Homo sapiens: one gene and its partners. The protein of the gene in region 4 purifies or fractionates together with the protein of the main gene of each other region. This does not show direct contact. Each region holds a gene or a part of one and is shown on either strand. Other genes may lie near its edges.

Region 1 (3,571 bases), on a different chromosome or scaffold from region 4:
CTAATTCAGTGGTGTTTACCTCATGAACCAAAGAATGCCCCAAATGAATAGTATACCTTAGAAATCCTTTCAGCACAAGGCTTACAGTGTCTCATTCTTTCAAATATGATCTTATAATTTGCAAAGTTCATTTATAAGAAATTTATATATTAAAATATTCCTAAGAACAATTATACTAGGTAATTTCACAGTAGGTATTCAGGGTCTTAGAATAAAGTGGGACCTTGAAAATAAGTAACTTAAATTTTAGCTGAGTATTCTCAAGCTACTTTTATCAACTGTTTAGAATGAGAGGTATATGTGGCAGAATATTAACTAGAGCCAAGCTATGACAATTTGGCAGAGACTCTACCTCAGACTGTACGTCTAAACAAGTATTTAAGTAGTAACCTTGAATACTGTTTCCAAAAGCTTAACAAGGTGGTTTTATTTCCTTCAATGAGAATGTTTTCCATCAATAAAAAAGTTAACCCACATCTTGTACATAGAATACATTCACTTTGAACTCCATCAGTGGATAGGACAAAGCAATGTCCTTTAATAAATCCAACTACTTCCAAGTATAAAATAAATACAAATTTGTAAAAATTTTTAAAATAGAGATTATACATATAAGGAGATAGAAGAAGTAACATCCTGTGAATATATGCAGTACTTTAACCAAATACTGGTCATCAGATATATGATGCTCATATGGAGAGCTGAGAGGCTTAAAGAAGAGACAACAATAATTTATGATTAAAAATTAAGGTTGGCTGGGTGCGGTGGCTCATGCCTGTATCCCAGCACTTTAGGAGGCTGAGGCCAGCATATCACGAGATCAGGAGTTCGAGACCAGTTTGGCCAACATAGTGAAACCCGGTATCTACTAAAAATACAAAAAATCAGCCGGGTGTGGTGGTGTGCGCCTGTAATCCCAGCTACTCAGGAGGCTGAGGCAGGAGAATCACTTGAACCTGGGAGGCAGAGGTTGCAGTGAGGCGAGATCACACCACTGCACTCCAGCCTGGGCAACAGTGCCAGACTCCGTCTCAAAAAAAAAAAAAAAAAAATTAAGGTTGACAGGTTTGCCAGCCTGCTTCTGAGCTTTCTATCTCCAATAGCTGGTAAGTGGTAACATAGTTATTATTCTTTGTAGACTTGCTCGATCAGAATTACATTTTTGTAGCTCAGAAGATTCACAGTTCCTGTTTCGTATCAAATAGAAAATTCTGGGTCGTACTAAATATTTATAAACTTTCATACTACATAATCGATGTTTTTTAGGGTACAGGATGCCAAAACCATTTAACCTCAAAATCCTCTTGTCTATACATATGTACTTAACAATATGCATATTGTTAGCAAATACAGATGTGAGAGAAAGATAGTATTCTTGAGAGAACTGCATGCCAGGAAGTGCTAGCTTTTAACCTTTGTGTTTTTAATCAAGTAACAGATATTGTTTAAGAAGGTATATCTGAATATACTGTAATGTAAATTTTCAATGAAATAACTTCAGCCCTGAGACATAATGAGATACCAAAGTTTAAAAATCCCAAGTATGTAATAAAACACCAAATTTTAAAATATAACTTTTAACATTTCCTTTTACTTTTCTGAAGAAACATTTAAGATGCACTGTTATAATAAGGTAAACATTGAAACTGAATATATTTGAATTCAAAACTACAGATTTTAATTACTTTTTACTTAAATATTTTAAGCAATTAACAATTTAACCACAGCACCTTATCAGCATCGTAGTATCTAGTAATTCTATTTTTATATCAAAGAAGTATACATTTTTGTCCATTTTTGAATAATTAGTAAATCAGTAGCGTTTGCTTATATTGAATAACCTTGATTGTGAACAATATAAGCAACTCTAATGGACTATTTAGAAAATCGTAATGTTCTAATTAGAAAATACCAGTATCAACAATGTTATTTGTTGAATGCAAATGATAATTACTTTCAGCAATCAACTAAATACCAGATTGACTACAAGAAAGAGAATAAAGGACACCAACTCACCATTAAACAACATTTACTGACTCTATGACCCACCCACCACAATGTTAGCAACAGGGATAATATTTATATAAAAGAGAGTGGGCATGAGCTATGTGTTTCACATCTCTATGTTCCTAAGGTCAGTGGATGATTCATTAAGGAGTTTGTCACCTTTATGAATTCTTTATGTTTAACTTAAGAAATGGATACTCATTTTGTTTGGGGGTTGAGGTAAAACGGGTGGGTCAAATAGATTACCCGAAATAAACATAAACTCATATTCTTTTTCTCCCTTATCCCCAAAAGTGTGTTAAATATAATTCATTGTGGAGAAAAGAAATTGTTAAGTGTGAATCAATTTTATAAAATTAACTGTAATATGGTGGTAATGAAAGATGGTAGTCTGTAAGCAGAGTTCTGGCCACTATTTTGTATATTTAAAAGGTCTATGCAAAAGCTTTGTGATGAATAAAGGAGATTAGGCTTAAAAAAAGTTAACTGCAACAATTTTACCTTCAATTTTTATGATATGGCTCCTTGCATTTGAAAAAGGCTATAGATAGTGATAACTGAAAGAGTAACTGATGGTCCTTTTCACCCTAAGCACAGAGGAAGAGTTCTTCTGTATGCTTACTATTTGTAGTCTGTTACTATTTCTGACCCTGACTCTTGAATTCATTGCCTCTGCTCAGAATCACTCAAGAGTTTAAATTACACTTCTGCTAGACATTTTAAAGAACATATTATACTCATTACACATTCACAGTTAAGGATGGAATCCTTAACAATGAAGGATATAAAACAACTTTTGGTATAATCAAGGATATAATACAACTCGAAAATTGTCTATCATAATCTTCTTAGCTGTTACCAATTGTATGATGTCATATTTACATATGAATGACTTCAACACCTCAATAATCTATGGATTTGTAGTACTGTGATTCTCTTGAAAGCCAGAGCTTATGTAATACAAAATAATAAAATTATGGATTTTACAAAATAATATTCTCTGGCTAAATATTCTTTTTTTTTTTTTTTTTTGAGACAGTGTTTCACTCTTGTTGCCCAGGTTGGAGTGCAATGGCGCAATCTCGGCTCACTGCAACCTCCACCTCCTGGGTTCAAGTGATTCTCCTGTCTCAGCCTCCCAAGTAGTTGGGAGTATAGGTGTGTGTCACCATGCCTGGCTAATTTTGTATTTTTTTTTTTTTTTTTTTTTTAGTACAGATGGGGTTTCACCATGTTGGTCAGGCTGGTCTCCAACTCCTGACCTCTGGTGATCCACCCACCTCGGCCTCCCAAAGTGCTGGAATTACAAGCGTGAGCCACCAAGCCTCGCCTCTGGCTTTCAAAAGAGAGAATCACAATAATACAAAAATTTAAACCTGTTAAAATAACACTGTCCATATCCCAACAGCTCCTAAACACGTTAACTAAAATGGCATAATAAATTTGCCTGAGTTCATGTATGCCTTAATAAATAATCTTCAGAAAAAAATTTTAATCATTTTATTTTTCTATATTAACCATTTCATTTCCCACTGTTCATTATCTTTTTATTAATGTTATTTTG
Region 2 (3,571 bases), on a different chromosome or scaffold from region 4:
TAACTGCATATTCAAAGTCTGTCTCCCCTACTCAGCTGTGAGTGTGCTAAGGGCAGGGCCTAGGGCTGTCTTGGCCACCACTGTGTCCCCAGCATCACTCCATGGGGCCCTGGCAGGGACTCATCCCTCTGGTGGACAGGCAGGGGCTGCCAGGACCTGGGGTGGCCACTCCGCTTCTTGTCATTTGTGTGCTGCTGCTGCTGCCGGTGGTCAATCTCCAGCAAGTGCTGCTTCATGCAGTTGGTGATCTCCGGGCCCAGGTGCCAGATGAACACGCAGCTGCGGAGGTCAAAGAGAGACACACAAGGCAGAGGAAGAGTAAGCATGGGAGCCGCTGCCGTGGCTGACCCTGAAGCCACCCACACCACAGCCTGGACCCCATTCTCCAGATGCTCCTGGAAAACACACCCCTATCCGCTTAGTGCAGGGGTGCTGGACTTGCCACATCCACACCCTGGGCCCAGGTCTGGGGCATCCCAGCAAACCAGGGCCTGTTCTGGAGGCCTCAAGACCTGAGGAAGGGGGCTGTGGGGAAGAACTGGGGTAAATCAAAGGGAGTGACAAAAGGGACTTCCTTGAGTACCACCCATGTGCTAAAGAATGTATGTATATCATCTCATTCATTTCTCACCATACAATTTTCTTTTTTTTTTTTTTTTGAGAGAGTCTTGCTCTGTCACCCAGGCTAGGGTGCAGTGACGCGATCTCAGCTCACTGCAACTTCTACCTCCCAGGTTCAGGTCATTCTCATGCCTCAGCCTCCCAAGTAGCTGGGACTACAGGCGCCTGCCACCACGCACAGCTAATTTTTGTATTTTTAGTAGAGACACAGTTTCTCCATGTTGACCAGGCTGGTCTTGAACTCCTGACCTCAGATGATCCATCCACCTAGGCCTCCCAAAGTGCTGGGATCACAGGCGTGAGCCACTGCGCCCGGCCTCATCACACCATTTTTAAGGTAAATGTAAACGGTGGTGTCTTTTACAGGGGAGCAAACTGAGGCTCAGGGGAAATAACCTGCTCAAGGTGACAAGAAAATAAATGGCAGAGCTGGGATATGTTTTTTTAGTGTTTTGTTTTTTTTTTGAGACGGGGTCTTGCTCTGTCACCAAGGCTGGAATGCACTGGCATGATCTGTGCTCCCTGCAACCTCTACCTACCAGGTTCAAGCCATCTTCCCCCTCCTGAGTAGCTGGGACTAGAGGTGTACATGACCACACCCGGCTAATTTTTTGTAGAGATAGGGTTTTGCTATGTTGCCCAGGCTGGTCTCGAACTCCTGAGCTCAAGTGATCCACCCGCCTCAGCGTCCCAAAGTGCTGGGGTTACAGGCGTGAGCCATCATGCCCAGCTTAGAGCTGGTATTTGAACTCAGGGCTGGGTGTGACACCAAGACTCCCACAATCCAAACTGGGCAGTTTAGAAATGCTCTCTACACAGGCAGGCTGAGTGCAGTGCTCATGGTATCTGAGCCACAACTCTCCCAAAGGTCCATGTCCCACCTGTCTCCAGATACTGTGATCAAGTGATGACAGTCATAGGTGAACTTCATGCTGGTAATAATTTCTGCAAACAAAGCAGAGAGGCTGCACTTGCCTTCGGAGTCAGAGGGTGTGGGCGGGTGGGGAGGCATCCCAAGCAGAGAGGCACACCCACCTGAATGGCCAAACATCTTGGCAATGCACTCGCCCGAGTAAAAGTCAATCACTGAGATGCTTTTGTCAGAGCAGCTGGTGGCCAGGAAGGTGCCTGAGGGGTCCACATGGACCTGCCAGGAAAGGGACCCACATGTCACTCCAGCTGCCTGCTTCTTCCTTATGATGAGGCCTGGGCCCCTCCCTCCCCCGTGCTGCATGCACAGCACATGGGACTCTGGCAGGGCAGGAGCTCCCGCTCCCATTCGACACGTGAAGAAATTAACAACCACCGCAGCAGTAACAACAGTAGCCAGGCCCTGTGCTAAGCACTGAACATGTGCAAACTGAACTCCTCCAGAGAACAAGTCTATGAGACAAGCTGTCTGTGTGCATTTCAAGAGATGATGCTTGCCCAAGGTCACACAGTCAGCCTGAGGCAGAACCTGAACCCATAACTGTCCTAGACCAGAGGCTCTGAGAAGGTCCCCCCTTGTCCTGAGTGACCCGTGGCTGGTGTGGGCAAACCAGGAGGGGAGTTCATGCCTCTGATTCTTCCCACCATACCCTGCTGCCACTCAAAATGGAACCCACTTAGACGCCCCACTTGGGGAAGGGCTCTGTAAATAAAGGAAACACAGCTGGGGTCACCCTCCCCACCCTCTCGCAAGCATCCTTGTTTAACCAGGCCTGAGAAGGTGCTGGGCAGCGCGGTGCACTGAGGAAGGACCAAGGGCACAGGTCTCAGGTGTGGGCCGTCACAATAGGTGGCCCATCAGGGCAGCAGACAGACAGGGGTCTCCAACTCCTCACCTTCAGCAAGGACCCTTCGTCACCCTGGGAGCCCTTGTAGCACTTCTTCTGCTTCCCGTTCACAGTGTTGTAGACTCTGGGGAAGTAGGGGCATGTTGCGGCCAACAGGGCCCCGCCTACCCCACCACCTCATTCTCTGGCTCTTGCTGTCCTCCCCTCCCCTGGAAGCCCCCTGCTACCTCTTGTCCCCATCTGATGCCTAGACTGAAACTGAAACCCCATCTCAAGCTGAGGTTGTCCTGGGGTATCCACTGAGTTAATGTTCATCTCCCCCACACACTGCAAGCTCAGTGCTTGGCACCGCATGAGAAAGAACTGGGAAGGGGTGCAGAGCCTCTTTGCACTGCTTTGCCCTCTGCACACTCACTCTCTGCCTCCCCCTGGCTCGCTCCTCCACATCCTCCCCAGGCTAAGGTGTCTCTTCCTCCAGGAAGTCCTGCTTGATCCGCAGGTGGGGTCAGGTGTCTCCACAGGGCCCCTGGGCTCCCCCATCTCTGACCACTCTGTCACTGTCTGTGGCTGTGAGGTGGCCGTGTCCATTCTACTGGACTGTGAGCTCCATGAAGGAGGGCCTGGGGCTATCCTGGCCACTGCCATGATCCCAGCACCATCCAGCCCAGTTAGGTGCTCAGGGAATACGGGTGAATGAGGGAGTTTATGTGCCACATCAGCACCTTAGTCATCCCACACCGGCTCTAGGGAGAGCCAGAAGAAAGCCCTCTGCTGACCTGGAGGCCAGGCTTGGGAGAGCCCAGCTTCTAAGAAATACCTGCTGGTGGCCGGGCACGGTGGCTCACGCCTGTAATCCCAGCACTTTGGGAGGCTGAGGTGGGCAATATCACCTGAGGTCAGGAGTTCGAGACCAGCCTGGCCAACATGGCGAAACCTCGTCTCTACTAAAAATACAAAAAATTAGCTAGGCATGGTGGCAGGCGCCTGTAATTCCAGCTACTTGGGAGGCTGAGGCAGGAGAATCACTTGAACCCAGGAGGTGGAGGTTGCAGTGAGCTAAAATGGTGCCACTGCACTCTAGCATGGGCAACAGAGCAAGACTCTGCCTCAAAAACAAAAACAAAAAAAAACCAAGAAGGAACACCTGCTGGGTCCCTCAATTCCTTCCCAGC
Region 3 (3,571 bases), on a different chromosome or scaffold from region 4:
CAAGGGAGCCAGGCCCTGTAGATATTTTGGTGGAAAAAATTTTCAGGCAGAGAGAACAGAAATTGCAAAGATTCTGAAGTAAAAGCAGGTAGATGTATTTTTTAAATGTGTGTGTGAAATTAGCCAGGCGTGGTGGCAGGCGCCTGTAATCCCAGCTACTCTGGAGGCTGAGACAGGAGAATCGCTTGAACCGGGAGGCAGAGGTTGCAGTGAGCCGAGATCGCGCCATTGCACCCCAGCCTGGGCAACAAGAGCGAAACTCAGTCTCAAAACAAACAAAAAACCACACACACACACACACACACACACACACACGTGTGTGTGTGTGTGTGTTTAAGTAACCAGGGTTCAAAGACATCACAAGGAAAATTAGAAAATTTTAGAGATTAATGAAAATGAAAATACAACATACCAAAACTTACGGGACACAGCAAAAGCAGTGCTAAGGGGGAAATTTATAGCTATGAATGCTTACATTAAAAAGCAAGAAAGATCTCATATCAACACCCTAACTTTACAACTTAAGGAACTGGAAACAAAAGAACTAGTTATTTGTGTCTTCTCTCTTATTGTTGAAAGAGTATTTTCAACAATTGTATGCCAACAAATCGGATAACCCAGCTGAACAAATTCCTAGAAACACAATACTTACAAAGACTAAATCACAAAGAAATGGAAATTCTGAATGGAGCTATAACCAGTAAAGAGATGGACTCACTAACCAAAAATCTCCTGACAAAGAAAAGCCCTAGATCTGATAGTTTCATAGGTGAATTCTATAAAACATTTCAAGAAGATCTAATACCAGTTCTTCTCAATCTTTTCCCAGAAAAAATCTGGCAAAGGAGAGAACACTTCCCAACTCATTTTGTGAGGCAAGCATTACCCTGATACCAAAGCCAGACAAAGGCAACTACAAGAAAACTACAGATCACTATCCCTTATGAACACTGATAAAAAAAAATCCTCAACAAAATACCAACACATTGAACTGAGCAGCACAAGGATTATACACCATGACCAAGTGGGATTTATTCCTGGAATACAGGGATGGTCCAACATGTAAAAATTGATCAATGTAATATACCACATTAACAGAATGAAGGAAACCACAGAATCATGTCAATCGATGCAGGAAAAGCATGTGACAAAATTCAAAACCCATTAGTCATAAAAATGCTCAACAAACTAGGAATAGAGTGAAACTACCTCAACAAAATAAAAGCAACATATGAAAAACCCACAGCAAACATAATTGATGGTCAAAGACTGAAGAATGTTCCTCTAAAAACAAGAACAGGGCCAGCACAGTGGTTCATGCCTGTAATCACAGCACTATGGGAGGGTAAGAGTAGAGGATCACCCGAAGCCAGGAGTTCAGGATCAGCATGGGAAACATAGCGAGACCCCATCTCTAAAAAAAAAAAAAAAATTATTTTTTTAATTAGCTGGGTGTAGTAGTGTGTCTATAGTCCCAGCTACTCAGGAAACTGAGGCAGGAGGATCTCAAACAAACTAACAAATAAAAGAACAGGAGCAAGACAAGGATGCCCAATGCCCACTTTTGCCACTTCCATTCGACATAATACTGTAAGTTCTAGCTAGAGTAATTAGGCAAGAAAGAAAAACAAGGGCCGGGCATGGTGGCTCACGCCTGTAATCCCAGCACTTTGGAAGGCTGAGGCAGGCGGATCGCGAGGTCAGGAGATCGAGACCAGCCTGGCTAAAACGGCGAAACCCCGTCTCTACTAAAAATACGAGAAAAAAAAAAAATTAGCTGTTTATGGTGGCACATGCCTGTAGTACAAGCTACTCGGAAGGCTGAGGCAGGAGAATCGTTTGAACCCAGGAGGCGTAGGTTGCAGTGAGCAGAGATTGCACCACTGCATTCCAGCCTGGGCAACAGAGCGAGACTCCATCTCAAAAAAAAAAGGAAGAAAAATAAAAATAAAAGGCATCCAAATTGAAAAGGAAAAGGTTGAGGGCCAAGAGCGGTGGCTCATGCCTGTAATCCCAGCACTTTGGGAGGCCAAGGCGGATGGATCACGAGGTCAGGAGTTCAAGACCAGCCTAGCCAAGATGATGAACTCCCATCTCTACTAAAAATACAAAAATTAGCTGGGCGTGGTGGCATGTGCATGTAATCCCAGCTACTTGGGAGGCTGAGGCAGAGAACTGCTTGAACCCAGGAGGCAGAGGTAACAGTAAGCAGAGATGGCGCCACCGCGCTCCAGCCTGGGCGACAGAGCGAGACTCCATCTCAAAAAAAGAAAAAAAGAAAGAAAAGGAAAAAGTAAAATTATCTGTCTGCAGATTATATGATCTTTTATATAGAAAATCTGGCCGGGCGTGGTGGCTCACACCTATAATCCCAGTACTTCAGGAACCCCAAGGGGACTTGAGGTCAGGAGTTTGAGACCAGCCTTGCCAACATAGTGAAACCCTGTCTCTACTAAAACTACAAAAACTTAGCTAGGCATGGGCGCATGCCTGTAGTCCCAGCTACTCGGGAGGCTGAGGCAGGAGAATCGCTTGAACCCAGGAGGCAGAGGTTGCAATGAGCCAAGATTGTGCCACTGCACTCCAGCCTGGTGACAGAGCGAGAGTCTGTCTCAAAAGAAAAAAAAATAGAAAAGAAAGAAAACCCTAAAATTCAGTGGGGCAAAAGGAGCTAGAGCATCAAGAAGAATAGCTAGTGGATGCTGGGCTTAATAGCTAGGTGATGGGTTGATCTGTGCAGCAAACTGTGATGGCACAGGTTTACCTATGTGATAAACCTGCACATCATGCACATGTACCCCAGAACTTAAAAGTTGATGAAAAAAATAATAAAAATAAGGCCAAGTGCAGTGGCTCACGCCTGTAATCCCAACACTTTGGGAGGCCGAAGCGGGCGGATCACGAGGTCAGGAGTTCAAGACCAGCCTGACCAACATGATGAAACCCTATCTCTACTAAAAATACAAAAATTGGCCGGGCATGGTGGCGAGCGCCTATAATCCCAGCTACTCCGGAGGCTGAGGCACAGAATTGCTTGAACCCGGGAGGCGGAGGTTGCAGTGAGCCGAGATCACACCACTGCACTCCCGCCTGGGCAACAGACCGAGATTTCATCTCAAAAAATAATAAATAAATAAATAATAATAATAATAATAAACAGAAGTTCAATAGTTAATTAAAAAAAAAAAAAAGCCAGGCACAGTGGCTCACGGCTGTAATCCCAGAACTTTGGGAGGCTGAGGCAGGTGGATCACGAGGTCAAGAGATCGAGACCATCCTGGCCAACATGGTGAAACCCCGTCTCTACTAAAAATACAAAAATTAGCTGGGCGTCGTAGCGTGTGCCTGTAGTCCCAGCTACTCGGGAGGCTGAGGCAGGAGAATTGCTTGAACCTGGGAGGTAGAGGTTGCAGTGAGCCGAGATCGCGCCACTGCACTCCAGCCTGGCAACAAAGCGAGACTCCATCTCAAAAAAAAAAAAAGAAAAGAAAACTCTAAAATTACACACACACAAAAAAAAACTGTTAGAACTAATAAGTGAATTCAGCAAAGTAGCTGGATAGAAAGTCAA
Region 4 (3,320 bases):
AGGCTGGGGTGCAGTGGCACAATCTCAGCTTACTGCAACCTTCACCTCCTGAGTTCAAGCAATTCTCCTGCCTCAGACTCCCAAGTAGCTAGGATTACAGGCATGCGCCACCACGCCCAGCTAATTTTTTTGTATTTTTAGTAGAGACGGGGTTTCACCATATTGGCCAGGCTGGTCTCGAACTCCTGACCTTGTGATCCACCCGCCTCGGCCTCCCAAAGTACTGGGATTACAGGCATAAGCCACCACACCCTGCCCTGATTTTTATCTTAAGAAGATGAATTTCAAATTATTACCTCTCTTCAAGATTTTTTAGGTAGTATGTATTTATATTTTGGCTTCTGATCACGAGAAATGCAAACTACTGCCATCTAAGTTTCAAACAGTAGTACCACTTTACGTTACAGTTAAAAAGTACCTTTGCAAAATGTTTTACATAATAATGGCTTCCATTTCCTGGACTTCTACTATGTACTAGGCAGTGTGCTAGGTACTTCATAGGCATGATCTCAAATCAGTCCAACAATCTCACAAAATTAATTCTATCATCTTGTTTCACAAATTTTTTTAAATGAGATTCAGAAAGATTTAAAATTGTGTTCATGATCACTGAGCAAGTAGGTGCCAGCACTTGGATTCAAACCCAGGTCTGTCTGTTGACTTAAAACCCTGCACAAAATTACCTTCTTTAATCATCATAACGCATTGGCGGAAAGACCTGTGCCTGATTATCCCCATTTGCCCAATAAAAAACAGAGAGGTTAATGATTTGCTTGCTCACCATCACAGAACGAATTAGCAGAAAAGAAACTGCCTTCCCACTCTTCATTTCATTTTTTTTTTTCCAGAGGACCAAATCACAGTTTACATATTACATTCTAAAAGCTATACTTATGGCAGTTACATATTACTTATGGATAGGATAAAAATCTCCTGATTTCTGAGAATCTTAAACATTGTTATAAATACGGCTTAGCTTCAACATAGGTCTGGTACATTCCTGTTTGTTCCAGTCCACCCGTGAATCAGGTACCAGTTCAACTCCCTTATTGGTTCCAGAATCCCCTCACGAATCCTAGGAACAACGGTGCTGATAACATAAGGGCACAAGCACCCTCTCCAGGCCTTTATCCTGTCCTTAGCTGCCCTGACACCATCATCAGACAACCAGCAGAACACCCTGAGGAAGGGCACACATATCTTACATGGTTCTTTTTTCCTTTATTTGTAAAATTATAAAGAGATTGTGTCATAAAAATCCAGCAAGAAGGTCTTATCTCCCTGAGTCCCACTATTCGAAGCAGGCTCCCAGAGGAGGGTATCATTTTATGTCCTGGCAAGAAGGTCTTCTCTTCTTGAAGCTGCCAACACTGTATCCTCAAACCTGTATTCCAGAAACTGTGTCTGTGATGTGCTGTGGCCAAGAAGTGATTCTCAAAAAAAAAATAAATAAATAAATAAGTAGACATGGATACAGCTCTCCTGCAAGAGAAAGCAAACAGGCTTTATCACCTCATAAACATGTCTCACCAATCAATACTTATTTGCCCTCTTTTCTGAAGCAACTCTTCAGAGTCCACTTGAATTCTATCACTACGGATAATTCTTGAAATTGCATTTCTCCCTCCTAATGATCTTCGAACAAGGCAAGCACCTCATTTTATTAAGTCCAACTACCCAAAGGAGCTGGTTCAGAGAAGAGTTAAGATATAGCTAAAATTGAGGTCTTAATCATTCCAGTGTGATAGAACTCTGCTATGTTGTCAAATCTCACCAAGCCTGATCTCCCAACTGCCAGTGGCAAGAACAGACAGCTGTCAGGGTTATTTGTTTTATTCAAAAATGACAGGAAATCAAAAATCTATCAAAGGGATGTGTCAACAGCAATGCCACAAGCATATTGGTTAGTGAGATTTATGTGTCTCCATTTTGGCTCATGACAAAAATCACCTTCTAAGCTTTCTCATTTTCAAATGCCCACTTGGACATACAGGTCAGAGAGTTCTGTGAAGTATCTTTAATGTTAGGTACAGTGTAGAACGTAGTCACTTTCTATGTGAATTTAAATTATGCAAATTTAAAATGTGGTATGATATAAAAATATTAAATACTGTCTCCTTATGCAGATTTCTGCAAATCCCACAAAACGTCTTTTAAGTATTAAAAATTGCAAAATTCCAAAGCTGAAAAAATTGAGTAAATTATAAATAGCACCTACCCTCTAGCCTCATCACAGTGCCACTTTATGTGCCAAACTAAATGCCTATATGTCTACTCCATTGTGTACGCGCATTGGAACTTTATGAGCAATTTTAGTGACCACTGTTGCTGGTATTTTAACTTCCTGTTATTATCATTTTAATACCTTTTTATGTCTTAATATAAAATCAGCCAAGTCTTCACAAAGTGTTGACGTTAGAGCTAATGCAAGAAAAACAAACTGTCAAACTATAAACTTTAGGGGTAAGACGTGATCAAACACTATATTTTGAAAGGCCAAACAATCACCACAACACTCCTTGATGTTAATTTAGGACACTCAATCAGTAGGCAAAAATTTTCTTCAAGGACCAGACAGTAAATATTATAGGCTTTGTAGCTATAAGGTCACTGTTATAACTATTCAACTCTGCAGTTGTAGCTTTGAACATAGTTAGAAGCATAGTTGTGTTCCAATAAAACTTTGTGTATAAAAGCAGGCAGCCGGCTAAATTTGGTTTACAGGCTGTAGTTTCCTGACCTCTACTTTATTATAGCTATAGAGCTAATTTCCCCCACTTCTTTTAATGTAGCATTTTACAACACATGAAAACAGTAGTACCCCCACCTACAACCACCCCCTCCATTTTCCATACAGTTAATTCTGAGAAATTAAAAAGTTCCATTAACATAGGCATATTTCAAACTTGACAAACTTTGTAAAAACAGTCAAGAAAATGGGAGAAAAGGAAAGGAATAAGCTGGCAGCATTCGATGCAACATCAAATTGTAGATTTATGTGGTAAGAGTACATACATACATATACATATATCCCCTACTTTACAGTTACTCCTCTGAGAAAACTGGTCATGAATTTTGAGAGTTGGAATTATATAAATCTTTCAGGAAATTTCATTGCATTGAATGCATTAAATGCAACTGTCCTGTACTAAACTCCTGGTTATATTCAGACCTCGACCATTTCACTTAAGAGAGGAGAGTAAGTTGCTTTTCACAAACAATACGATGCCCTGAGTTCATGGCTTAGCCCTCAACCACAGGACAAAAACACAAACAAACAAACATAAAAAACACACCAGCCTGGGCAACATAGGGAGACT

The links.
Region 1: the proteins of PRELID2 (region 4) and MLF1 purify together in Homo sapiens (affinity purification with mass spectrometry; one large-scale study listed by BioGRID and IntAct). This does not show direct contact.
Region 2: the proteins of PRELID2 (region 4) and WDR62 purify together in Homo sapiens (affinity purification with mass spectrometry; one large-scale study listed by BioGRID and IntAct). This does not show direct contact.
Region 3: the proteins of PRELID2 (region 4) and KIF11 purify together in Homo sapiens (affinity purification with mass spectrometry; one large-scale study listed by BioGRID and IntAct). This does not show direct contact.

Annotation. Positions count from the first base shown.
Region 1 is NC_000003.12:158,574,153-158,577,723, reverse strand, and holds part of MLF1 (myeloid leukemia factor 1), read right to left. Parts: intron 1-3,571. UniProt on the Homo sapiens protein: Involved in lineage commitment of primary hemopoietic progenitors by restricting erythroid formation and enhancing myeloid formation.
Region 2 is NC_000019.10:36,089,397-36,092,967, reverse strand, and holds part of WDR62 (WD repeat-containing protein 62), read right to left. Parts: intron 2,524-3,571; coding exon 2,448-2,523; intron 1,769-2,447; coding exon 1,657-1,768; intron 1,567-1,656; coding exon 1,503-1,566; intron 280-1,502; coding exon 157-279; intron 1-156. UniProt on the Homo sapiens protein: Required for cerebral cortical development. Plays a role in neuronal proliferation and migration.
Region 3 is NC_000010.11:92,599,570-92,603,140, reverse strand, and holds part of KIF11 (kinesin-like protein KIF11), read right to left. Parts: intron 1-3,571. UniProt on the Homo sapiens protein: Motor protein required for establishing a bipolar spindle and thus contributing to chromosome congression during mitosis. Required in non-mitotic cells for transport of secretory proteins from the Golgi complex to the cell surface.
Region 4 is NC_000005.10:145,759,044-145,762,363, forward strand, and holds part of PRELID2 (PRELI domain-containing protein 2), read right to left. Parts: intron 1,483-3,320; 3' UTR 1-1,482.